Regions from separate parts of the Homo sapiens genome. Here all the other regions are linked to region 2. Evidence: fine-mapped expression QTL. A gene starts in region 2. Each other region holds a variant in brackets. All regions are shown on one strand. Distances are between the middles of the regions. Region 1 overlaps ATP6V0A1 (ATPase H+ transporting V0 subunit a1). Region 2 holds the start of NAGLU (N-acetyl-alpha-glucosaminidase). Region 3 overlaps LOC102725238 (a long non-coding RNA gene). Region 4 overlaps RETREG3 (reticulophagy regulator family member 3). Region 5 overlaps STAT5B (signal transducer and activator of transcription 5B).

What was found.
Region 1: its variant is fine-mapped to the expression of NAGLU in whole blood (TOPMed, PIP above 0.99). The same link has a PIP of 0.9 or more in lung.
Region 3: its variant is fine-mapped to the expression of NAGLU in lung (TOPMed, PIP 0.95).
Region 4: its variant is fine-mapped to the expression of NAGLU in monocytes after interferon gamma (Fairfax 2014, PIP 0.95).
Region 5: its variant is fine-mapped to the expression of NAGLU in whole blood (TOPMed, PIP above 0.99).

Annotation. Positions count from the first base shown.
Region 1 is chr17:42,476,285-42,481,284 of GRCh38, reverse strand. It overlaps ATP6V0A1 (ATPase H+ transporting V0 subunit a1), which reads right to left. Exons shown (of 22, transcript NM_001130021.3): 6 at 3,543-3,625; 7 at 2,696-2,822; 8 at 536-618. Among named protein-coding and RNA genes, the nearest start is that of MIR548AT, 16 kb to the left of the region's middle. The variant A/TA (reference allele first, on the strand shown) is at 2,357.
Region 2 is chr17:42,534,292-42,539,420 of GRCh38, reverse strand. NAGLU (N-acetyl-alpha-glucosaminidase) reads right to left here and starts at 3,180. Exons shown (of 6, transcript NM_000263.4): 1 at 2,766-3,180; 2 at 1,876-2,023; 3 at 936-1,082; 4 at 666-751. The coding sequence starts at 3,148. RefSeq lists silencers at 2,678-2,747, 2,868-3,277 and enhancers at 2,137-2,874, 3,388-3,467.
Region 3 is chr17:42,442,716-42,447,844 of GRCh38, reverse strand. All of the region lies in intron 3 of LOC102725238 (a long non-coding RNA gene), which reads right to left. Among named protein-coding and RNA genes, the nearest start is that of ATP6V0A1, 14 kb to the left of the region's middle. The variant T/C (reference allele first, on the strand shown) is at 2,308.
Region 4 is chr17:42,602,033-42,607,158 of GRCh38, reverse strand. The region is part of intron 1 of RETREG3 (reticulophagy regulator family member 3); the gene reads left to right. Among named protein-coding and RNA genes, the nearest start is that of RETREG3, 4.8 kb to the left of the region's middle. The variant AC/C (reference allele first, on the strand shown) is at 1,896.
Region 5 is chr17:42,215,244-42,220,372 of GRCh38, reverse strand. STAT5B (signal transducer and activator of transcription 5B) reads left to right here. Exons shown (of 19, transcript NM_012448.4): 6 at 531-661; 7 at 910-1,061; 8 at 1,495-1,650; 9 at 2,043-2,222; 10 at 2,909-2,996; 11 at 3,091-3,213; 12 at 4,267-4,359. Among named protein-coding and RNA genes, the nearest start is that of GHDC, 23 kb to the right of the region's middle. The variant C/A (reference allele first, on the strand shown) is at 2,154.

The DNA.
Region 1 (5,000 bases), 58 kb after region 2:
GCACCATCGTACTCCAGCCTGGGCGTGGAGGGAGACTCGGTCAGAAAAAAAAAAAAAAGAGAAAAAGAATTTAGTGGCTCACGCCTCTAATCCCAGCACTTTGGGAGGTTGAGATGGGCAGATCCCTTGAGTCCAGGAGTTCCAGGCCAGCCTGGGCAACATGGCAAAACCCCGTCTCTACAAAGAATACAAAAAATTAGCCAGGTATGGTGGCACACGCCTGTAGTCCCAGCTACCCTAGAGGCTGAGGCAGGAGAATCCCCTGAGCCCAGGCAGTCAAGGCTGCCGTGAGCCGTGATCATGCCACTGCACTCCAGCCTGGGCAACAGAGTGAGACCCCCCCATCTGAACAACAAAAATAAAAATAAAAATGAATGCAGGCTATTTCTAATTGATTAAAATAGCCCCTAACATTATTAAAATTAACTGTGTTGAGGTAGACTAAAAAGGATTTGTATTTCACTATTGTGAACTTTAAGACTCAACAGTTGGGCAGCATGGCTGTGCACTCCTGGTAGAGGCATGCCTCTCTTACCCTTCACAGATTTTCTTGACTCTGTTTTTCAGCTGATCGCCTTGGAAGAAAATGATAAACACAGACTTGTGCACGTAGTCGCCCTAGGCCCCAGAATAAAAAAACAAGAGTTCAGACTTCTGTATCTGGATGAAAATCTCTTAAATAACCCACTTTTTTGGTGATGCAAGAACAACAGGCATCTTTTAAGGACATGGCAGTCCTGCATTTTAACCACTGCCCTCACTCCATTTCCTAAGCTTCACTACAAGAACATCTGCCCTATAATCTCTAATTCACAAAAATCTTTCTCTATTTGTTTTTTTGACTCAACCAGGAGCTTGAAGCTAAGATGATGCTCCTCTTAGCACTGTTTAGACTTATTTACCAATTCAGCTTTAAATCTTATATTGCCTGAATGATGAAAGTATAGGAGAGAAAAGAGAAGGAAGCCATTTCTGCCTGTTCTGGGACTTAGAAATTCTTAGATAAAAGGGGCTGAATAACTACAAGGAACTGAGTCCCTGGAAAGAATGCTGATATAGAATCTCACAATTCAAGCTAATCTGGACTTTATGGGGCAGGGAGGAAGGTAATCCATTCCAAATACCAAATTTATACCTGAAGTATGATGCAAGGACTGGAAGGAAAGATCAGAAAAAAAGGTGTATGGTGTGTTAACCAGGATTGTCTCAGGTTGCCTGTATTTTCTCATAGTCATACACAGCATGTAGAGCTTTTATAATAACAAACAAAACTTTAGAAGGATAAAAGGGGATGAGGAGTGAAGAAAATTGGGCTCAAGGGTCTGAAATCCCTAAATTCTGTAGGCTAAACTAGAACCCATTCTTTGTGCAGCCTGCTCTGTTACAGATATCCAGGGTCCCCATTTCTGGATTTGTTGATAAAATAACCTTTCTGTTGCCAAGAGGAAACTTGACTGAATATTCCTGAGAAAAGTTCCTCATTAATGTGACTACAAATTACAACGTTTCCACAACCTGATGGCCTTTGGCAAGATTGTGAAACTACACCCCTAGGCAGGGGGTTCACCTGAAGTGTAACCACACTCCTCCACGGCATGGAGGATGAAAGACCTGCAGCTGCACAGCCCACCCAATCTGAGAAATCTCACAATTCAATCTCTCTCTTTTTAGGTAAAGAACACGAATTTAAGAAATTCACAAGATAATTTAGAACAGAAAAGCTAACTTTAGGTTTCTAAATAATACTAGTACAAAAGCAAAGCAAAATTTTTGCAGTACATTTATCTTCACTGGTACTCCCTGAAATCAGGACTCACCATACCTAAATGCAGGTTTAGACGATAAACTCTGTCCCATTATGGCAAATGCCAGGATGTTAAACTGTTTCTACTTCCTGAAGTACTGGGTGGGGAAGATCATCCTATTTTGTGCGATATCTATTCTTAAACTAAGTTTCTAATCCTTCCAACAAACAAACAAAAAAACTTTACCAAGTAAAATTTCATCAGCTTATTAAGATCACAGTCTAGGAAATCTCTCCTTCTCTTTTTATACATGAATATTACCAAACTTGGGGCTGGGCATGGTGGCTTATGCCTATAATCCCAACACTTTGGGAGGCCGAGGCAGGCAGATCACTTGAGATCAGAAGTTCAAGACCAGCCTAGGCAACATGGTAAAACACTGTCTGTACTGAAAATACAGAAAAAATTAGCCAGGCATCATGGCACATGCCTGTAATCCCCAGCTACTCGGGAGGCTGAGGCAGGAGAATCGCTTGAACCCAGGAAGCGGAGGTTGTGGTGAGCCGAGATCGCGCCACTGCACTCTAGCCTGGACAACAGAGTGAGACTCC[A/TA]CCTCAAAAAAAAAAAAATTACCAAATTTGGAACCAGATGTCTTGCTTTAAAGTTAATTTTCATAAAAGGCAAATGAGTGAAAATAAAAATTTCCAATCAGAATAACATCTACACGGGTAAACTTGAAAATATGTATATGTCATGTATACATCATACATCCATATGTATATATGACAGGAATTAACTAAGAGGAAGTACTTCAAATTCTCCAATTAGAGCAGAGATAAAGATAATGGCTCCTCTGTGGAAGCACTGGATTCAGGTGGCCCCATGCTACGTTACTGCTCTGGGCTCCCTTTACAAGACCTACTCCACAGGATGCAATCTCCTTGTCTTACAGTCACAGGATCCTCCAGGGGGTTCTCGATTTCAGCCTGTCGCAGGAACACATTTCCCCGGCATACCCGCCAAAGCATGCGCTCAAAAGTAGGGATGCGCTCCCGGTTAATGACACCAGCCACGAAGCTGTGGGGAGAAGAGGCAGATTGGAAACTCTATTCCATGTCATGGGATGGAAGGTTTTAATACAAGTCTTTTTTATTTATATTTATATATATATCTTTTTTTATTATACTTTAAGTTCTAGGGTACATGTGCACAACGTGCAGGTTCATTACATATGTATACATGTGCCATGTTGGTGTGCTGCACCCATTAACTCGTCATTTACATTAGGTATATCTCCTAATGCTCTCCCTCCCCCCTCCCCCCACCCCACAACAGGCCCCGGTGTGTGATGTTCCCCTTCCTGTGTCCAAGTGTTCTCATTGTTCAATTTCCACCTATGAGTGAGAACATGTGGTGTTTGGTTTTTTGTCCTTGTGATAGTTTGCTGAGAATGATGGTTTCCAGCTTCATCCATGTCCCTACAAAGGACAGGAACTCATCATTTTTTATGGCTACATAGTATTCCATTGTGTATATGTGCCACACTTTCTTAATCCAGTCTATCATTGATGGACATTTGGGTTGGTTTAATACAAGTCTTATTCCCAGCTTCACTTATGGACCCAGCAGAGAGCTGACAGAGCAACTCAGGCATGAATCCAGAGTTGTAGGACTATCTCAATAGGCTCAGAAGAGGGCATATCCTGGTAGCAAGTGAATCCCCAGTCTCACTGCTCTTCTGAACAGAAGAGATGAACATGGCCCCACTGAATACCGAAAAGTTGACATGGCACTTACCCAAGTCTTAAAGGAGTGCCTCTTCCCATCTCACTTGGCTCCAAGAGGGATGAGGACTCTTCCAACAAGTCTGGATCCGCCATCTGCTGATGATGCAATTCAGCCTGAATTCACAAATCAATTAATATCTAATGAAAATAGTTAGTGGCATGCAGGCAACGAGGAACCAGGAGACAGGTTCAGAAAATAAGGATGAAAAAGAAAACAAACCACGAAAAGACAAGATATATCCATAAAAAGACAAGAAGAATAGGGGATGAAAACACAGAAAATAAATTTGAGGTAAAGAAAGCATAATTGCCCCAGTAAAGCATCTGGGGAAATGGTTTTAGAAATAAGGAGCAAAAGGAAAAAAAATTAAGTGATGGTGACATGTATAAATCTGTTACTTGGTGGAAGCCATTTTCTCTCCTACGTTTCCCTGAATGAATGATGAAAGTGCCAGGAAATACCTCTGCATGTAGATAGGAAGCTAAAATATCTCTTCTTTCTGTGCAATAATGAAGAGACTCTGCAGATACTCTGAACATTTAATTTCTAGGCAGCTACAAACTAGAATTTTCCCTACGTGAGAATGTGAAAGATAGAGGCTCTCTTTCCAAGGAAGAAGCAAGGCACTGCCACTGTCTTTGAATGCTGTGAAGTCTGGAGAAAGACAGAAGGGGAAGCTCCAGGTATCTACGTTTCCAGCCCCTTTAAAATTCAGAATATGAGAACTTTCAGCATGGCCACTTATAGAATGATCCAAGCCATGGGATTTAAAGAGTATTTATGTCTTCAAAAGGATAAGAAGCACAATAGCTGGGCAGGCCTGTAAAAACATATCTGAATGTCCCATTTTCTGACTAGGAATCTTCTAAATAAGTTCACATAGGCTTTACAGTTGTAGGATTCTTGAGAACACAGCTCAAGAATCAAGTAAAGTGAAGGAAAAACAACAGATAATAAACCAAACTAGAGTTCATGGGCTGGTTTAATTGGTAAGATTTAAAATGACTTCCACCATGACAGTTTATACAATGAAATGAAGAAGGATCTTCCCACACGCAGGTCTACATTTCCTAGCCTCTCTCTACCGAACTCATCCTACCACCCTTTACTCCCATCAGAAAGGAGAAGCTGCTCCAAAAAACAAAACAAAACAAAACAAAACAAAAACCAGTCCAATCAACTTCTCCATTGCCTCATCTCCCCAACTCTAATACCCAGGCAATACTTGTTTGACCAAAAACTAGGAGTAAACCAGAACAATCATCCTCTTCAAAAGCACAATAAGACAAAAAATCAGAAGAGTTTTTCTCTATCATTTTCATTCCAAATTTCAATTTGATTCTACCCCTGTCAGCCACACTCTTAAAAAGTGGCACAGGGACCATAACTTGATAAAGTCATGGGATCATAAACATAGCAAAAAGGGGGAAAAACTGTGTATAAACCAGATGATAAGTCTGAAGGCCT
Region 2 (5,129 bases):
TTTTCCCAACCACATGTGAGAGGATGGCTGGGAAGCACAGAGGAACAGGAGGGACAAGGGACACTGGAGCACCCCTGCTGCCACTCCCAAGGGCTGCCATTTGCTAGCACTCTGTGCAAAGTCACAGATAGATCGAGAGATAATTACAAACCCTACAGCGAAGTGGGTAGAGATCCCATTTTACAAGTAAGGAAACTGAGGCACAGAGCAGTCATGTCATCTGCCCGAAGTCACACAGCTAATTAGTAGCAGAGTCAGAAATCAAACCCAGGCCTACGTCCAGAGCTTGTTTGTTTGTTTGAGACAGAGTTTCGCTCGTCACCCAGGCTGGAGTGCAATGGCGTGATCTTGACTCACTGCAACGTCTGCCTCCCAGGTTTAAGCAATTCTCCTGTCTCAGCCTCCTAAGTAGATGGGATTACAGGCGCGTGCCACCATGCCCAGCTAATTTTTATATTTTTAGTAGAGACAGGGTTTCACCATGTTGGCCAGGCTGGTCTCGAACTCCTGACCTCAGGTGATCCGCCCAACTCGGCCTCCCAAAGTGCTGGGATTACAGGCGTGAGCCACTGCGCCCGGCCCAGAGCTTAAGTTTTTAAGTCATGTTCTAGAAGGGAATAAAATTCCCTCTCTGAGCTAAGTGGAGGGGGTGAGCGGAACCTCACCTGGTGACAGCCTCGGGAACATGCCCCGCGAATGCAGGCAGCACTGGGGTCATGCCGAAGGAGCGCATCTGGTCCAGGACCCGGTGCTGGAGGAACAGAAGGAAGGGTGGTGAGCATGGCCACTGCTGTCCTATGAGAAGGCCCTCATCTCCCAGGATACACGCAGCCCCCCGCCTCAGTTAAGAGCCCTGGGGCCGGCCTAATACCACCCTTCCTGGGCCCATGACCATCTATCACCGATTCTGCCCCTTCCCTTTTCCATCCTTTTACCTGCAGGTAAAGCTGCTTGATGTGCCAGGAGGGGGGCAGGGGGCCATCCCAGGTGTGCAGGTTGCCCATTCGCCCCCAGGCCAGGAAGGCAGGACCAGTAAAGAACTCATTGATCTCTGCCTGGGTCAGGCCCAAGGCCAGGTACACCTGAGGAAGAAGGGCCCACACATAGAAATATATTCATCTTCATTCATTCATTCATTCATTCAACAACCATTCACTCATTGCTTCTTTGTGCTGGGTGCTAGGGCTACTGAGACAAAATCCGAACGCTGCCATCAAGGAGCCCACAGCCCAGAGGAAAGAGACCTGTGAGTAGGTGAGTTCACTGTGTTGCCTTTGTCGCATGGGTGAGGAGATGGGGCACAAAGGGGCTTTCCCCCAACAGGAAGGCCTTAGAAGGCTTCATGGAGCAAGAGTGCCAGATGGAAGGGCAGGGCAACTGTGTGAAGAGCTTAAGCAGAGCCTGGAGCAGCCATTGCAGCACAGAAGCTTCCAGGGAGGCAGATCTAGAGCTGCCCATGAGTTGGATCCAAGGGACCAGGTGATTGGCTGCATAGGGGAGATGGGGGAAGGAGCCCCACTCCTCAAACTGGAAGCCTCAGTTTTTTTTTTTTTTTTTTTTAGACAGAGTCTCGCTCTGTTGCCCAGGTTGCTATTTCTTTGTATTTTAGTAGAGACGGGGTTTCACAATGTTGGCCAGGATGGTCTCGATCTCCTGAACTCCTGATCCGCCCGCCTAGGCCTCCCGAAGTGCTGGGATGACAGGCGTGAGCCACCGCGCCCGGCCGGAAGCCTCAGTTTTTAGGAGGCCCAAGCCACTGTGCACGCTGAAAGCACTTCTAGAGAGAGACACTGCGCCCATGCTGGGGGGCGGGTGAAAACACCTACGGTGGCTCCCGCCATAGAGGAGGGTGGGGAAGGGACAGTGGGCACGCACCCGCTGCCAGATGGCCTCCTGGCCGCTCCAGGCCAGTGCCAGGTTGATGCCATTCAGCGCCATCCAGTCTATCTCTCGCTCCCAGCGGGCCCAGTCCCACCACACGAAAGAGTAGCTTTGCGTGCACACATTCTGGTAATAGCGGTACCTGCGGGCAGTGTCATGAGCAGGGGCGCATCCCACCCTGGAGGGTCCACGGCCCTGGAACAAATCCCCCATCCCCCACCTAGAGGAGAGGGGAGGGGCTCCAAACTCGGCCCTTCTGCTGCACACTGGGACCCACCCCAGGTGGAGCTGAGACCAGGTACCGGGGCTGGGCTTCTGAGGCACTCGTCCCCTGCACTCTCCCAGGGCCCTCTAGCCTGGCGGGTATTTGGGTGGCATATTCCACTTTCATGCCACACTGCCAGAGCCCCTCCTCTGCACGGTGTTTTCCTGGAACGGGGAATCCCTGCCCCCACAGTCTAACAGATGGGCAGGGGAGGACAGCTGTGTGAACACATCACTCCATAGTGTGGCAGGCGCTGGAACACAGGCCTGTAGGGTGGGGGATGGAGGCGTCCTTCCTCAGTCCGCAGGTTCAAAGAGAAGGTGGGGGAGGAAGGCAAGAAAATTCACTCATCACCAATTGTGCACCACAAATTCTATGCCCATCATCGTGCAAATCCTCACAATAACACTGCACGGTAGGCGTCTTCTTTCCGTTTTTCAGGTGGGCCAGCCGAGGCTCTGAAAGGCAGAGTGGCTGGCTCAAGGCCACACAGCTGCTGGAGGCGGCGCAGCTGGGCCTTCCGGCCAGCGCTCCCCGCTCAGCCTCCCGATTTGGGTGGCAGCGGCTCCGGGAGGGGGTAAGCGCCTCGGGCGGACGCGGGGAAGCTTCGGGGCGGTACCTGTTGGGCGTGGCCTCGGTCAGCTCCCCCGGCACGGCTGGCAGTGGCCGCGGCAGGCGCAGCTGAGAGCCGGACCAGGCCACGTGGCAGCCACAGAAGTCGCGCAGGTAGCGGTGCAGCCCCGCGGCGGCCGCCACGCCCGTGGAGCCGCGCACCCGCACGCGCGCCGCGCCGCCGCCGCCCAGGCTGTAGGTGTCCAAGCCCGGCTTGGCAGCCAGAGCGCGCTCCACCGACACGGAGAAGTCGGCCGCGGGGCCTGGCCCCAGCAGCCGGGCCACGAGCGCCCGCACGGCCGCCGCCTCCCGGGCCTCGTCGCCTGCCGCGCCCCCGGCCCCGGCCAGGAGAAGGACCCCCACCGCCGCGGCCACCGCCACCGCCTCCATGGTCTCAGTCCTGCGGGTCCCGCGACGGCCAGGGGGTGGGGCGGCCCGCGTCCAATCAGCTGCCGGCCTCCGGCCACGTGGACCCGAAGGCTAAGCCCGGGCTCAGGGCCAGGAGTCGCGGCTTCCGGGTACCAGGATACTCCCTTGGGGGCGTCTCGTGACCGCACGCGGTGGGGAGCGTGTGACCCCGGCTCCAGGGCCGAAGGGGACCCGCTGGCCCTCACAGAGCGCCTTCGGGTAAAACGCGCTTTCACACGCAAATAACTTCCATCCAACCATCTAATAAATACACATTTGGAGTTTATTTTGTATCAGGCACTGCCATAGCTACTTCCCTACTGATGAACGAGAAGACGGTCCCTACCGTCCCCGTCAGGGAGGTGACCTAGAAACCAGATATTTAACGTAAGTAAGGATTTCCATCATAGTTGTGATGCTGCGAAGTAGTGCAGTAAGTAGCGAAGTAGCGAAGTAAGGTTTCCAAAGGAAGTGACTTTTAATCTGAAACTCAGGGATGAATAGGAATTGGCTAGAAGAGGGAAAGGAAGAGCCTTCCAGACAGAAGAAATGCATTTATTGAAGGCCCTGAGAAGGCAGAGAGCTTGCAGATTTGAGTAACTAACAGGCTAGGAGGTTCGAGGAGGGATGGGGCCATGTGAGCCCAGGCCGGCGGTGGAGCAGGGCTGGCGGGCACGTTAAAGGCTGTCCATTGGCGGCAGCAGCAGCAACATAACAGGAGCTGTCATTTTGTCAGAAGTTTCCAACCAGAGCGACTCCATCTTGAACAGGGGCTGGGTAAAATGAGGCAGAGACCTGCTGGGCTGAATTCCCAGGAGGTTAGGCCTTCGTCACAGGATGAGACAGGAGGTCAGCACAAGATAAAAGGTCACAAGACCCCGCTGATAAAACAGAATGCAGCAAAGAAACTGGTCAAAACCTGCCAAAACCAAGACAGGAAGGTGACCTCTGATCGTCCTCACTGCTCATTATACGCTAATTATAATGCATTAGTATGCTAAAGACACTCCTAGCAGCGCCAGGCAGTTTACAAATGCCATGGCAACGTCCAGAAGTTACCCTATATGGTCTAAACAGTGGAGGAACCTTCAGTTGGGGGGGATCCCCACCCCTTTTCTGAAAAATTCATTACTAACCCACCCCTTGTTTATCATATAATCAAGAAATAACCATAAAAATAGCCAACCTTAGGCCAGGAGCGGTGGCTTACGCCTGTAATCCCAGCACTCTGGGAGGCTGAGGCTTGCAGATCACCTCAAGTCAGGGGTTTGAGACCAGCCTGGCCAACATACAGTGAAACCCCGTCTGTACTAAAAATACAAAAGTTAGCCAGGTGCTGGGCGCGGTGGCTCACGCCTGTAATCCCAGCACTTTGGGAGGCCAAGACGGGCGGATACGAGGTCAGGAGATCAAGACCCTCCTGGCTAACACGGTGAAACTCCATCTCTACTAAAAATACAAAAAATTAGCCGGGCGTGTTGGCGAGCGCCTGTACTCCCAGCTACTCGGGAGGCTAAGGCAGGAGAATGGCGTGAACCGGAGAGGCGGAGGTTGCAGTGAGCCAAGATCACACCACTGCACTCCAGCCTGGGGGACAGAGCAAGACTCCCTCTCAAAAAAAAAAAAAAGAAAAAAAGTTAGCCAGGCTTGGTGGCACACGCCTGTAGTCCCAGCTACTTGGGAAGCTGAGGCAGGAGAATCGCTTGAACGCTGGAGGTGGAAGTTGCAGTGAGCCAAGATCGTGCCATTTGCATTCCAGCCTGGATGACAGAGCGAGACTCCATATCAAAAAAACAAACAAACAAACAAAAAAAGTTGAAAGAGGCCTGGAATCAGATATCAACTTTAGATACTAGGGAAGTATGATTTTTTTTTTTAATCTCAGCTCACGGGAACCTCAGCCACCCAGGTTCAAGCCATTCTCCTGTCTCAGTCTCCTGAGTAGCTGGGATTACAGGCACGT
Region 3 (5,129 bases), 92 kb after region 2:
GCACATGCCTGTAATCTCAGCTACTCGGGAGGCTAAAGTAGGAGAATCACTTGAACCTGGGAGGTGGAGGTTGCAGTGAGCTGAGATTGTGCCACTGCACTCCATCCTGAGCAACAGAGCAAGACTCCGTCCCCCCCCACAAAAAAGGACACCAGTCCTGTTGGATTAGCCCGGCTAATTTTGTTTTTTCGGTAGAGATGGGGTTTCTCCATGTTGGCTTGTCTCGAACTCCCGACCTCAGGTGATCCGCCTGCCTTGGCCTCCCAAAGTGCTGGGATTACAGGGGTGAGCCACCACGCCCGGCCCAGTGTCCTTTTCAGAAGAGGAAAAAGCACCAGGAGTGGTCACACACAGACAAAAGGCCATGGGAGGACACAGCAAGAAGGTGGCCATCTACAGGCCAAGAAAAGAGGCCTCAGGAAAAACCAAACCTACCAACACTTTGGTCTTAGACTTCCAGCCTCCAGAACTGTGAGAAAATAAATTCTGTTGGTTAAGTTACCCAGTCTGCAGTATTTTGTTATGGAAGCCCTAGATGACTAATACAAGAAGGAAAGTATATTGCAATTACTCATATATTTGCTTTCCACGTTCTTTTTTCTTTCTTTTTTTTTTTTTTTTGAGACAGAGTCTCGCTCTGTCACCCAGGCTGGAGTGCAGTGGTGCGATCTCAGCTCACTGCAAGCTCCGCCTCCCGGGTTCACGCCATTCTCCTGCCTCAGCCTCTCTGAGTAGCTGGGATTACAGGCACCCGCCACCACGCCCGGCTAATTTTTTATATTTTTAGTAGAGACGGGGTTTCACCGTGGTCTCGATCTCCTGACCTCGTGATCCGCCCGCCTCGGCCTTCCAAAGTGCTGGGATTACAAGTGTGGGCCACTCCACGTTCTTTTTTCATCCTTGATGTTCCAAGGTCCCTTCTTTTATCATTTCCCTTTCTTTTCAAGAACTTCCTTTAGCTTTTTTTTTTTTTTTTTTGAGATGGAGTCTTGCCCTGTCACCAAGACTGGATTGCAGTGGTGCGATCTCTGCTCACTGCAACCTCCACCTCCCAGGTTCAACCGATTTTCCTGCCTCAGCCTCCAGAGTAGCTGGGACTACAGGCATGTGCCACTATGCCTGGCTAATTTTTGTATTTTTAGTAGAGACTAGGTTTTGCCACGTTGGCCAGGCTGGTCTCAAACTCCTGGCCTCAAGTGATCCGCCTGCCTCGGTTTCCCAAAGTGATGGGATTACAGGCATGAGCCACTGCACCCGGCCCCCTTTTAGCCACTTTTTTAAAGGGTAGATCTACAAATGACAAATTCTCTTAGTTTTTCTTCATCTGAAAATGTGTTGATTTCTCTTTCATCTTTGATAGTTTTTTTCTTCTAGCATTTGAAAAAAGTTGTGCCACTTTCTTCTGGCCTTTTTTAGTTTCTGGTGAGAAATCTATTGTGGTTCAATCTGTTTTTCCCTTATGAGAAAGATGTTTTTCTCTTACTGCTGTCAAGATTTTTTCTTTGTTATTAGTTTTCAGGAGTTAGATTATTACGTGTCCTGGTATAGATTTCTTTGAGTTTATCATGTTTGTGGTTTTCTCAGCTTCTTGAACTTGTAGTTCTAGGTCTCTTGTCAAATTTGAGGAATTTTCTGCCATTATTTCTTCTTTTTTTTTCTTTTTCTTTTTTTTTTTTTTTTTTTTTTTTTTTTTTTTTTTTTTTTTGAGACGGAGTCTCGCTCTGTCACCCAGGCTGGAGTGCAGTGGCGCGATCTCGGCTCACTGCAAGCTCCGCCTCCCGGGTTCACGCCATTCTCCTGCCCCAGCCTCCCGAGTAACTGGGACTACAGGCGCCCGCCACCACATCGGGTAATTTTTTTTTGTATTTTTAGTAGAGACGGGGTTTCACTGTATTAGCCAGGATGGTCTCGATCTCCTGACCTCGTGATCCTCCTGCCTCGGCCTCCCAAAGTGCTGGGATTACAGGCGTGAATCACCACACCCAGCCCATTATTTCTTTGAATAAGTTTTCGGTCTTACATTCTTACTCCTTCTAGGACTCTGACGACATAATTTTCTCTCTCTCTCTCTCTTTCTCTCTCTCTTTCTCTCTCTCTCCCTCCCTCTCTCCCTCTCTCCCTCTCTCCCTCTCTCCCTCTCTCCCTCTCCCTCTCTCCCCTTTCTTTCTTTCTTTTCTTTTCTTTTTTGAGGCAGAGTCTCGCTCTGCTGCCCAGGCTGGAGTGCAGTGGCACAATCTCGGCTCACTGCAACCTCCGCCTTCTGCCTCCCGGGGTCAAGCGATTCTCCTGCCTCAGCCTCCCGAGTAC[T/C]TGAGATTACAGACGCCCGCCATCATGGCCGGCTAATTTTTGTATTTTAGTAGAGACAGGGTTCGGCCATGTTGCCTAGGCTGGTCTCAAACTCCTAAGCTCAAAGCAATCTGACCACCTCAGCCTCCCAAAGTGCTGGGATTATAGGCATGAGCCACCACACCTGGACTGAAATATTCTTTAATATTAAAATTAAATTTCATAAAAAGGAATGAAAGTATGACACATGCTACAACATGGATGAAACTTGAAAACATGCTAAGTGAAATAAGGCAGATTGTAAAAGGACAAATATTGTATGATTCCACTTAAGTGAAATATCTAGACTAGACTAGACTAGGCAAATTTATAGAGACAGAAAGTAGATTACAGATTACCAGGGGCTAGGAGAAGCAGGGAATGGAGAATTGTTGTTTAATGGGAACAGAATTTCTCTTTTATTTTGGAAATAGATAGTGGTGATAGTTATGCACATTGTCAGTGTAATTAATGCCACTGAATTGTACATTAAAAAATGGTTAAGGCTGTGCGCGGTGTCATGCCTGTAATCCCAGCACTTTGGGAGGCTGAGGCAGGTGGATCACCTTAGATCAGGAGTTCGAGCACTACCTGTCCAACATGGTGAAACCCCATCTCTACTAAAAATACAAAAATTAGCTGGGTATGATGGCGAGTGCCTGTAATCCCAGCTACTCGGGAGGCTGAGGCAGAAGAATTGCTTGAACCCAAGAGGTGGAGGTTGCAGTGAGCCGAGATCGTACCACTGCACTCCAGCCTGTGCAACAGAGCAAGACTCCATCTCAAAAAAAAAAAAAAGGTTAAAATGGGGACCAGGCACAGTGGCTCATTTCTACAATCCCAGAACTTTAGGAGGCTGAGGTGGGAGAATACATTGAGGCCTGGAGTTCAAGAGTAGCCTGAGCAACATAGCAAGGCTCCGTCTCTATATTACAAAAAAAAAAAAAAAAATATATATATATATATATATATATATATGGCCGGGCACAGTGGCTCACGCCTGTAATCCCAGCATTTTGGGAGGTCAAGGTGGGCGGATCACGAGGTCAAGAGATCAAGAAGGTCATCCTGGCCAACATAGTTCACATGGCAGCAGAGTGAGACTCTGCCTCAAAAAAAAAAAAAAAAAAAAGGAAAGAAAGAAAGAAAATTATGTCGTCAGAGTCCTAGAAGGAGTAAGAATTTAAAAATTCAAAAATTAGCTGAGCATGGTGTTGTGTGCCTATAGTCCCAGCTACTTGGGAGGCTGAGGCAGGAGAATTGCTTGAACTCGGGAGGCAGAGGTTGCAGTGAGCCAAGATCATGCCACTGCACTCCAGCCTGGCAATAGACCAAGACTCCATCTCAAAAAAAAAAAAAAAATATATATATACACACACACACACACACACACACACACACACACATATATTTATATATATAATGGTTAAAATGGCAACTTTTATATTTTACCACAATTTTAAAAATTAACATGATATACCAAAACCATTGAATTGCACTCTTTGAGTGAATTGTGTGGTATGTGAATTATATATCAATAATCTGTTTTGTTTTGTTTTGTTTTTGAGACAGAGTCTTGCTCTGTTGCCCAGGCTGGAGTGCAATGGCACGATCTCAGCTCACTGCAACCTCTGCCTCCCCGGGTTCAAGCAATACTCCTGCCTCAGCCTCCTGAGTAGCTGAGATTATAGGCATGCATCACCACAGCCTGCTAATATTTGTTTTTTGTTTTGTTTTGTTTTTGAGACAGAGTCTCACTCTGTCACCCATGCAGGAGTGCAGTGGCATGATCTTAGCTCACTACAACCTCCGCCTCCTGTGTTCAGGCGATTCTCCTGCTTCAGCCTCCCAAGTAGCTGGCACTATAGGCGCCCGCCACCACACCTGGCTAATTTTTCGCATTTTTAGTAGAGACAGTGTTTCACCGTGTTAGCCAGGATGGTCTCAATCTCCTGTCCTCGTGATCCACCCGCCTCGGCCTCCCAAAGTGTTGGGATTACAGGCATGAGCCACCGTGCCCAGCCAATAATACTCGTATTTTTATTAGAGGAGGGATTTCGCCATGTTGGCCCGGCTGGCCTCGAATGCCTGACCTCTGGTCAATAATCTATTTTCTTAAAAAGATTCATGGTGAAGATATGGAGAAATCGGAACCCCCATTCACTACTGGTGAAGATGTAAAATGGGGCAACTACTTTGGAAAATAGTCTGGCAATTTCTTAAAAGGCTTATCATAGAGTTACCATATAATCCAACAATTCCACTCCTAGGTATACACCTAAGAGAAATAAAAACCAAATGTCCACAGAAAAACGTGTACACAAATGTTCATAACAGCATTATACACAATAGCCCAAAATTGGAAACAACCCAGATGTTCAACAATGGATGAATGGATAAAGAAAGTGTAGTATAGCCATACAATGAGATGTTATTCAGCAATAAAAAGGGATGAAGTAATGACACATGTTACAACAAAAACCTTGAAAACATAGTAAGTGAAAGAAGTCAGTCAAAAAAGACCACATATGTGACTGCATTTATATGATATGTCTAGAGTAGACAAATCTATAGAGGCAAAAAGTGGATTATTAATGCCTAGGGCTGGGGTGATGGGGAGAATGGAACGTGATGGCTAAAGGGCATGGGGTTTCTTGGCCAGACACAGTGGCTCACACCTGTAATCTCAGCATTTTGGGAGGCTGAGGCAGGAAGATGGCTTGAGCCCAGGAGTTCAAGACTAGCCTGGGCAACATAGTGACACCCAGTCTCAACAAAAAAGAATAAATATTGTTTTAAAGAAA
Region 4 (5,126 bases), 68 kb before region 2:
ACTATAGCACCTCACTGAAGAGTGTTTTATCCAGTCAAAACATTTCCCACAGTGGTTTTGGTATCTCTAGCAAGAAGGCTGGGCCTCATTAAACCAATTTGTATCAAAGTATGACTGCCTGATGGAAAAAAACACTTTATCAGGGTTTACTTATTTTTGTTTTGAGACAGTTTGGCTCTTGTTGCCCAGGCTGGAGTGCAATGGCACGATCTCAGCTCACTACAACCTCCTCCTCCCAGGTTCAAGCGATTCTCCTGCCTCAGCCTCCCGAGCAGCTGGGATTACAGGCATGCGCCACCAATGCCTGGCTAATTTTTGTATTTTTTTGTAGAGACAGTTTTGCCAGGTTGCCCAGGCTCGTCTCAAACTCCTGACCTCAAAGCAATCCACCTGTCTCAGCCTCCCGATGTGCTGGGATTACAGGTGTGAGCCACTGCACTGTACCGGGCCTTAAATGGATTTTTAAACCAAAGATTTATGAATGCAAATGAATTAGTAGCATGTATGCTGTTCTTTTTGAGGAGGGGACCTTTTTTTTTTAATTAATTTTTGTTTTTTGAGATGGAGTCTCGCTCTGTCGCCCAGGCTGGAGTGCAGTGGCGCCATCTCGGCCCACTGCAAGCTCTGCCTCCCGGGTTCACGCCATTCTCCTGACTCAGTCTCCCGAGTAGCTAGGATTGCAGGCACGCGCCACCACGCCCGGCTAATTTTTTGTATTTTTTTTTAGTAGAGACGGGATTTCACCGTGTTAGCCAGGATGGTCTCAATCTCCTGACCTCGTGATCTGCGAGGAGGGGACCTTTCTTCTGCCGCTTGTCTGAGAGAGGTTTCTGAAGCAGAATGTGAGGTTGAGGTCTGCACATAAAGAGCTGCTGTGACTGGGACATATCTTTAGATGTTACAGCTAGCTTTAATTTGCTGGCCTCTACCAGTGTTTACTTAAGCTTATTAACATGCTATGTTTAGAGGCTCACTTAGAACCCCTTTTGTACTCTGGGTCTCTTAAAGCATTGCTGTGATTGGTCTTTATCTTTGGCATTTCCTAGTAGCTTGTCTGTTGTGTATCCAGAACACAGTTACTCTTGTTACAGTCCCATCACATTTTAAGAAGGTGCAGGAGAGAGACAACAAAATGAGGATGTGACTTTTTTTTTTTTTTTTTTTTTTTGAGATGGAGTCTCGCTCTGTCACCCAGGCTGGGGTGCAATGGCGTGATCTTGGCTCACTGCAACTTCCACCTCCTAAGTTCAAGCGATTCTCCCACCCCAGCCTCCCGAGTAGCTGGGATTACAGGCACCCACCATCACGTCTGGCTAATTTTTGTATTTTTGTAGGGCAGAGTTTCACCATGTTGGCCAGGCTGGTCTTGAACTCCTGACCTCAGGTGATCCACCCACCTCGGTCTCCCAAAGTGCTGGGATTACAGGTGTGAGCCACTGTCCCTGGCCGACAATGTGACTCTTGAGACTAAAAGAACAGTTGGGTATGCCATTTCTGGAGAGGACTCCTACATGTGAAAGGCACAGATACTGTTAAGTCCCCAGAAACTTGGATAGTCTGGCATTGGAGTTCACAGAATTGTTTGGGGAAATGAGCTTCCTTGGTAGGTAATTAGAGATTTAAAATGAAATTTGGGCTTCACATTCTAGTAGTGTCATATTGAGTATGAGTGTTGACATTTCGCTTAGAAATGTGGAAGAGTGACTGACTGTTCAGTTAACAAACATTTTAAATGTTTAAGAAAGGGAGGAGGATCATTAGCTCAAGTCAGAAAAATCAAATCTGAAATATTTAGTTTCTCTTTTATTGTATTGAATAATGGGACAAAAATGACATATCATTAACTGAGATTTTTATGCATTTTGAGGTATTAGGAGATAGGAGTACAAAAAAAA[AC/C]CCATCAGAATTCAGGTAGGTAGCTCTTAATTTTCAGTGTTTTGTATCCTCAGTCATATTTTGCCGTAACTGTGAATATGCCCTCTTACATCTTAAAAAAAAAAAAAAAAGATGGAGATAGATGTAGATACCTTGTCACCATAGTATTCCAAGGTTTTCATACTTTTTTTTTTTTCAGGTACCAGAGAATTTATGGTGGCCATATCAGAGGTCTTCCAGCCTAGATTACTTCTGGTCACTGATCTGTTATTGTCTCTAGCATAATAATAGAAATGTCAGGCCGTTCCTTCCAATAGCTTGTGTTTTCATTAGTCTCAACCTCATCTGTGAATGAGTGATTTGGGGGAAGAATGTGAGAGTCAACAAGCATGTATCCTGACAGGATCAGAAAAGAACAGGTTTGGGTAACTTTTTGGTTTGACTTGTACTCTGAGATCAGAGGAGGGTAAATGAACACTGGAAATGTGTGAACTCCAAGCTCCCTCTCCCACCTAACATGAAGAGATAGTTCAAGGAGGCCTACATAACTGCTGAGCTCTTTCAGTTTTTTTTTTTTTTTTTTTTTTTTGCTGGGGAATCGGGGGTTGTTGGGCTGGACAGGGTCTCCCTCTGTTGCCCAGGCTGGAGTGCAGTGGCACAATCATAGCTCACTGCAGCCTCTACCTCCTGGGCTCCAGCAGTCCTCTTGCCTCAGTCTTCCAAGTAGCTGGGACTAGAGGCACATGCCACTGGGCCCAGCCTATTTGCAAAACTTTTGTAGAGACAGAATCTCAATATGTTGCCCAGGCTGGTCTCAAACTCCTCATCTCTAACAGCCCTCCCGGCTTGGTCTCCTAAAGTGCTAGGATTACAGGCATGACCCACTGCACCTTGACTGCTTTGTGGTTTTTAACAATCTGTGAATCTACATAGTCTATGAATTAGGAATATTGTTTTGGAGCAGTCCACAAGCTGAGTCCCAAGTAGAGATCTCTGTTGGGATCTGCTTTTTGCAGTCACTAGTCTCAGTGAACCATACTGTATTTCTAGGAGGTTATTATAGAATTTGTTATTTCACAAATGAAATGTAAAAATTTTATTTTTGTCCGCCCCCCCAAAAAAATAAATAAATAAAAATGACCCAAAAAAGTGATTAAGGATATACAGCAATTCTGAGTTAGAAGGTTAGGATTTGAGTAAAAAATAATAGAAACAAGAAATGGAAGATGGGGAGCCCATTTAAGTAGAGATATTTGTTCTGTTAAAAAAAATCTACACATCTGATTTCTTTTCTTTTTTTTTTTTTTGAGACGGAGTCTCGCTCTGTCGCCCAGGCTGGAGTACAGTGGCGCGATCTCGGCTCACTGCAAGCTCCACCTCCCGGGTTCACGCCAGTCTCCTGCCTCAGCCTCCCGAGTAGCTGGGACTACAGGCGCCCGCCACCATGCCCACCTAATTTTTTGTATTTTTAGTAGAGACCGGGTTTCACCGTTTTAGCCAGGATGGTCTCAATCTCCTGACCTCGTGATCCGCCCGCCTCGGTCTCCCAAAGTGCTGGGATTACAGGCGTGAGCCACCGCGCCCGGCTACACATCAGATTTCTAATGAAATCTGTTGAGTGAATGTTCCTGATGATAGTCTTTGCAGGGTTCTTGTCTTTGTGAGCCGAGAAGACTCCCAAGGATGCCTTGGTTTATTTACTTCCCCTCTCTTTACCTTTAGTTTTTATCTGCCCTAATTGTATGGTTGAGTGCTTTCTCTCCACTGTTAGCAGCTAGCTGATTTCATTTCTGGTTTTTTTGCAAGCAACAACTGTCACTGCATGATATAGGTTGGGTTAATTTTTCCTTTGAATTTACCGGTGACTTGGGCTCATTAACCAGGCGGTCACAAGTGCTGTACAGTAACAGGCTTTCTGTCCCTGTAGAATGGGATGCTTTGTTTTGAAGTGCCCTTGAGACAATCTTAATCTGTAATAACAAAGGAACCTAGAAATCATGTCTTTGAAAATAGACATGTGGTCATTATTTATGATTATAGCAAACTTTAATTTACTGGTACTAATAGTGAGGCTCCATGGTATAGTTAATCACAAAAGTTTATGTTTGGTTCTGGAATTTCTCACGATGTTTCTGGACACCAATTGCTATTCCAGGGATATTTTATTTAGACTGATCATTTAATTGGATTTTAGTCCCTGACAGAGTGGAGGGACAGTTCACAAAAGGGGAAAAAAAAATCAATGGATATATAAAATTTCACTCTCACAAATAAGAAAAGAATTCAAATATATGTAAATGGAAATTATTTACTAATTTCTATCTTAAGTTTTTTTTTTGGCGGGGGACAGGATCTCACTGTCGCCCAGGCTCGAGAGCAGTGGTGTGATCATGGCTTATTGCAACCTCAACCTCTGGGCTCAAGCCATCCTCCCACCTCAGCCTCTCAGGTAGTGGGGACTACAGGTGTGTGTCACCACACCTGGTTAATTGTTTTGTATTTTTCGTAGAAACAAGGTTTCACCATGTTGCCCAGGCTGGTCTTGAACTCCTGGGCTCCAGCAGTCCACCCACCTTGGCCTCCCAAAGTGCTGGGATTACAGGTGTGAGCCTCCACACCTGGCCTTAAGTATTTTTAATGATCATAATTAATTCTGGGGAAAATATGGAAAAATGGGCATATGGCTGATAGGAACATAAATTGGACAGCCTTTCTAGCAAGTAGTTTGGTAACATATTTTAAGCCACTTAAGAAGCTTTTCCAGGGCTGGGGGAAATGGAGAAAGAATACTAATGGGTATGGGTTTCTTTTGGAGTGATGAAAATGTTCTGAAATTACATAAGGCTATTAGTCGTACAGCATTGTGATTTTTTTTTCATCTCTGCTGCTGGCAGATGAATTGAAAGAGAATTTTATCGTATACAAACCATTATCTCAATAAAGCTATTTTCTTACTTTTTTTTTTTTGAAACGGAGTCTTACTCTGTGGCCCAGACTGGAGTGCAGTGGCATGATCTCAGCTCACTGCAACCTCTGCCTCCCAGATTCAAGCAGTTCTCCTGCCTCAGCCTCCCAAGTAGCTGGGACTACCGGCGTGCACCACCATGTCTTGGCTGATTTTTGTATTTTTAGTAGAGATGGAGTTTCACCATGTTGGCCAAAGTGGTCTTGAACTCTTGACCTCAAGTGACCCACCTGCCTCGGCCTCCCAAAGGCTGGGATTACAGGTGTGAGCTACGGTGCCCGACCAA
Region 5 (5,129 bases), 320 kb after region 2:
CCTCACACAGAGCTCACCCATGTCAGGCAGCTTTCTGGCATCTTCCATGTCCTCATGTATTTAATCTTAATGCACCCCACTGAGGCAGGTGCCGAGAATCTCCCGTTTTACACGTGGGGAAGCCAAGGCACAGGAAAGGAAAGCGATTTGCCCAGGTTCACCTGCAGTCAAGGGCATGGGCACACTTACACCCCAGACAGCCTGGACCCATGCTGGGCCGCGAGAAGAGGGCTGGCAGCCCTGTGAGGCAGGCGGGCAGGAGGCAGGCAGGCCTCCTCCCCAGCTGCCCCAGCACCCGTGTGCCCCCAGAGGGGACGGCTCAGAGTCAGGAGGCTGGCGAGCAGGGCCCAGAGGCGCCTCCTGGGGCACCCATTCATCTTGGCCCCCCTGGCTGTCAGGAACCCCGACTTGCCCTTAATGCAGTATCTGAGCCCAGGAGGGTCTCGCTCCAGAACGGGTGAGTGGGCTTCTCTGGGCCTCCTGTTGGACACTGGGAGGTGATGGTCATGGTTTCCTCTCCCCTCCTCTAGCTCAGTTTGGCCCGCTGGCCCAGCTGAGCCCCCAGGAGCGTCTGAGCCGGGAGACGGCCCTCCAGCAGAAGCAGGTGTCTCTGGAGGCCTGGTTGCAGCGTGAGGCACAGACACTGCAGCAGTACCGCGTGGTGAGTGGGGTCCTGGGCCTCTCCTGGGCGTGGGTGCCATGAAGTCAGTCTCTGGGGACCCGAGGGAGGGCTGGGACCAGCATGAGAGCAGAACCTGGGAGGGCAGGAGGCCTTTTTTCCTGGGGGCCTTGCGAGGCAGAGCAGCTTGGGGAGAGGGAACGGCCTGGGCCCTGCCCTGCCATTTCCCAGCGAGGCCCTGCGGTGTTCTCTGGGAGCCCAGAAGGGGCTGCTCTCCTCCCTTCCCTCAGGAGCTGGCCGAGAAGCACCAGAAGACCCTGCAGCTGCTGCGGAAGCAGCAGACCATCATCCTGGATGACGAGCTGATCCAGTGGAAGCGGCGGCAGCAGCTGGCCGGGAACGGCGGGCCCCCCGAGGGCAGCCTGGACGTGCTACAGTCCTGGTAATGGTGTGGGGCGGCCAGCGGGCAGGGCAGGAGGGGCTGGTGGGGATCCCGGCTGCTTCTGCGTCCTGTGCTGGCTCCTGCAGCAGGCCCCCTCCATCCTGGGACAGCTCTTGTTTCTCCAGGGAGCCTGGTTCCTCAATCAGACTTTGGCCCCCATCCTGTGCACCTCCCCCAGGAAGGGGGCTGCTGTCCTGGAGATGGGACAGGGTTCGGGTGTGTGGGGTGATGCTTGGGCTGTTTGGGCCTAGTCAGGGTCGCCCCTCCTGTGTACGTCTCTAATTCTGGGAGGCAGGGAGCTCTGCTCTTCCCATGGGTGGGAAGTGTGGCGAAAGCACAGAGCCTTCCTGGGGGAACGGGAGCTGTGTCTTGGGGCCTGGCGTCTGTGCGGAGGAGCCATTGTCCTCCTGTTGGCCTTGGGGCTCTCGTGCAGGTGTGAGAAGTTGGCCGAGATCATCTGGCAGAACCGGCAGCAGATCCGCAGGGCTGAGCACCTCTGCCAGCAGCTGCCCATCCCCGGCCCAGTGGAGGAGATGCTGGCCGAGGTCAACGCCACCATCACGGACATTATCTCAGCCCTGGTGACCAGGTGACTGCTGCCTGTTTGCCATGCCCAGGAGCTTGGGGCAGCTCCTGCCTGCGTGGGGGGAGCCGCAGGTGCCTTCCAGACCAGCAGATCCACTTCCTGCCTCTCATCCCTCCCAACTCCATCTCCAGTTGCTGTGGCCCTTGCCCAGTTTCTCCTGTGGACACTGCAAGAGATGCCCTTGGGCTGCAGCCCATGCCAGCTTCTGTGTTATCTCACTCCCCTCTCCATCCTCTCCCTGGACTCTCACGGCTTCCCCAGGAACAGAGGCTGTGCCCGAGCTCTTCACCTCCTGAGCCCCTCGGGAGGCAGCCCCACCCCCACCACAGAGGGACTGAGAGCCCTTTCCCCTGCACCAGCCCCTCATCATGCATCTGTCCCTGTGTCCCCTGCAGCACGTTCATCATTGAGAAGCAGCCTCCTCAGGTCCTGAAGACCCAGACCAAGTTTGCAGCCACTGTGCGCCTGCTGGTGGGCGGGAAGCTGAACGTGCACATGAACCCCCC[C/A]CAGGTGAAGGCCACCATCATCAGTGAGCAGCAGGCCAAGTCTCTGCTCAAGAACGAGAACACCCGCAAGTAATTGTGCAGCTTCCTCTCATTCCCTGCTACTTGTCTCATGTCCTGGCAACAGGAAAAAAAGAATTCTGCCTCCTGTGTCAGATCCCTGTTTGCCCTTCTGGCCTCTTCTGGGCATCAGCAAAGGAATATAAGGAAGTTCTTGGGCCTGGTGTGGTGGCTCACACCTGTAATCCAAGCACTTTAAGAGGCCGAGGTGGGCAGATCACCTGAGGTCAGGAGTTCAAGACCAGCCTGGCCAACATGGTGAAACCCTGTCTCTACTAAAAATACAAAAAATTAGCCGGGCGTGGTGGCAGGCACCTGTAATCCCAGCCACTAGAGAGCCTGAGGCAGGAGAATCCCTTGAACCTGGGAGGCAGAGATTGCAGTGAGCTGAGATTGCAGTGAGCTGAGATCACGCCACTGCACTCCAGCCTGGGCAACAAGAGCAAAACTCCGTCACAAAAAAAAAAAAAAAAGTTCTCTTAGGAACTGTTTTCTGTGAAGATAGTTTGATCTTGTTTCATTTTGTAGAGATACGTCCGAGAAGATTACATGTATGTGTTATGTAGCTAACATTTCCTCTAAATGACGTACATTTTTAGCAAACTTCTCTATTTCCTGCTACCCCAAATTATATTATTTACTCCGCATGTCCTGAGACCCTGGCATGGGTTTGGAGCTGGTCTCTCTCTGATTTGCAGTGATTACAGTGGCGAGATCTTGAACAACTGCTGCGTCATGGAGTACCACCAAGCCACAGGCACCCTTAGTGCCCACTTCAGGAATATGGTGAGGGTGGAAGAAGAGGAAGAATGAATTTTTCCCTGGTCTTTGAGGGGAACAACTTATATCTTACGTTTCATCTTATGTTTCTTCTTTGTAGTCCCTGAAACGAATTAAGAGGTCAGACCGTCGTGGGGCAGAGTCGGTGACAGAAGAAAAATTTACAATCCTGTTTGAATCCCAGTTCAGTGTTGGTGGAAATGAGCTGGTTTTTCAAGTCAAGGTAAAGCCTTCCCTCAGCTCTGCGTGTGCGTGTGCGTGTGTGTGTGTGGTGTACTTTATGTTACAAAATATTTTTTTTTTATCACATAGCATCTTCTTCTTTTTGACTGTTGGTAAACTGAAAATGGACTGACCTCACCCTGAGAACTGTTTCACTTAGGTTCTCTTAAGACATGAACAGAGGCCAAGCACAGTGGCTCATGCTTGTAATCCCAGCACTTTGGTAGGTTGAGGCAGTCAGGTCACTTGAGGTCAAGAGTTCAAGACCAGCCTGGCTAACACAGTGAAACCCCATCTCTACTAAAAAGTACAAAAATTAGCCAGGCGTGGTGGCACGTGCCTATAATCCCAGCTACTCAGGAGAATCACTTGAACCTGGGAGGCTGAGGTTGTAATGAACCGAGATTGTGCCACTGCACTCCAGCCTGGGTGAAAGAGTGAGACCCTGTCTCAAAAAAAAAAAAAAAAGACATGAACAAGCAAGGCCCAGTGCAGTGGCTCACATCTGTAATCCTAACACTTTGGGAGGCCAAGGCAGGAGGATTGCTTGAGTTCAGGAGTTCCAGACCAGCCTGGAGCTGGTTGTGAGACCCCGTCTCAACAACAACAACAAATTAAAAAATAAAAAATAAAACATGAACAAACAATAATGAACTGAACTAGCTGGAGAGGTAGACTACAAAATGGATATGAGAAACATTACTTGGGATGAATTTGAGTAAAGGTTGTGGTAAGTTTTAAATTTGTTATTTGTATTTTCTTCCCAGAAATATCTCCAATAGTCTTTTCTCTCTCCTGTTCTCCATGTAACTTTGAGAAACTTTATCCTTCAGAAATATCTAAGCAACATTGCTTGTAAAATATTTAAAATTTCTAAGATTGTGCCAGTATGAAAAGTCATATTATTCCTGGGGCCATTTAGATTCTGTGTCTGAGAGGAACATTAACTGAAACTTGGAAAATAAAAGTGTTGTTATAATAAGAAAAAAAAAAAAGAGAGAAGGAGAAGAACTTGAGGCTCGTGGGCGCTCAGCCTTCTCTTGTGTCTTTTTAGACCCTGTCCCTGCCAGTGGTGGTGATCGTTCATGGCAGCCAGGACAACAATGCGACGGCCACTGTTCTCTGGGACAATGCTTTTGCAGAGCCTGTGAGTGTATTCCTCGGGCATGTGGGTCCCAAAATCAATGCCGGTGTCATGAATCTCATTTATGTATTATCCTTTTAAAAAGCATAGGAAAAGGCCGGGTGCAGTGACTCACACTTGTAATCCCAGCACTTTGGGAGGCCGAGGCGGTTGGATCACCTGAGGTCAGGAGTTCGAGACCAGCCTGGCCAACATAGCAAAATCCTGTTTCTATTAAAAAATACCGAAAAATTAGCTGGGTGTGGTGGCACATGCCTGTAGTCCCAGCTACTTGGGAGGCTGAGGCACGACAATCACTTGAACCCGAGCGGCAGAGGTTGCAGTGAGCCGAGATCGCACCACTGCACTCCAGCCTGGGTGACAGAGTGAGACTCCATCTCAATAATAAAAAAAAAGCATAGGAAAAAAGACGCTGTTTTCTTTAGTGGGAGGCAGAATAGAAAGAATGTGGAAAGTGGAAAGAACATGGGCTTGACATCGGGCCAGGGTTTGAACTGAGACTCCACCATTTCCTCACTCCATGACCACATGGGCAGTTCACTTTACCTCTCTGAGCCTGAGTTTCCAGCAAGTGTCTGCAGCACAGGGATACTCTTGCTCTACAGCATTGTTAGGAAGATTAAATTAGATAACATAGAAAATGCTTGCCACACAGTCAGTACTCAGTAAATATTATTTTGAATCCTTGGGTGAAACTATGAATGGGATTTGGGACTCCTAGGTTCACTCCAGAGGTTAGATCTCTCCAGAGGCTTACTTTAGCATAGAAGTTG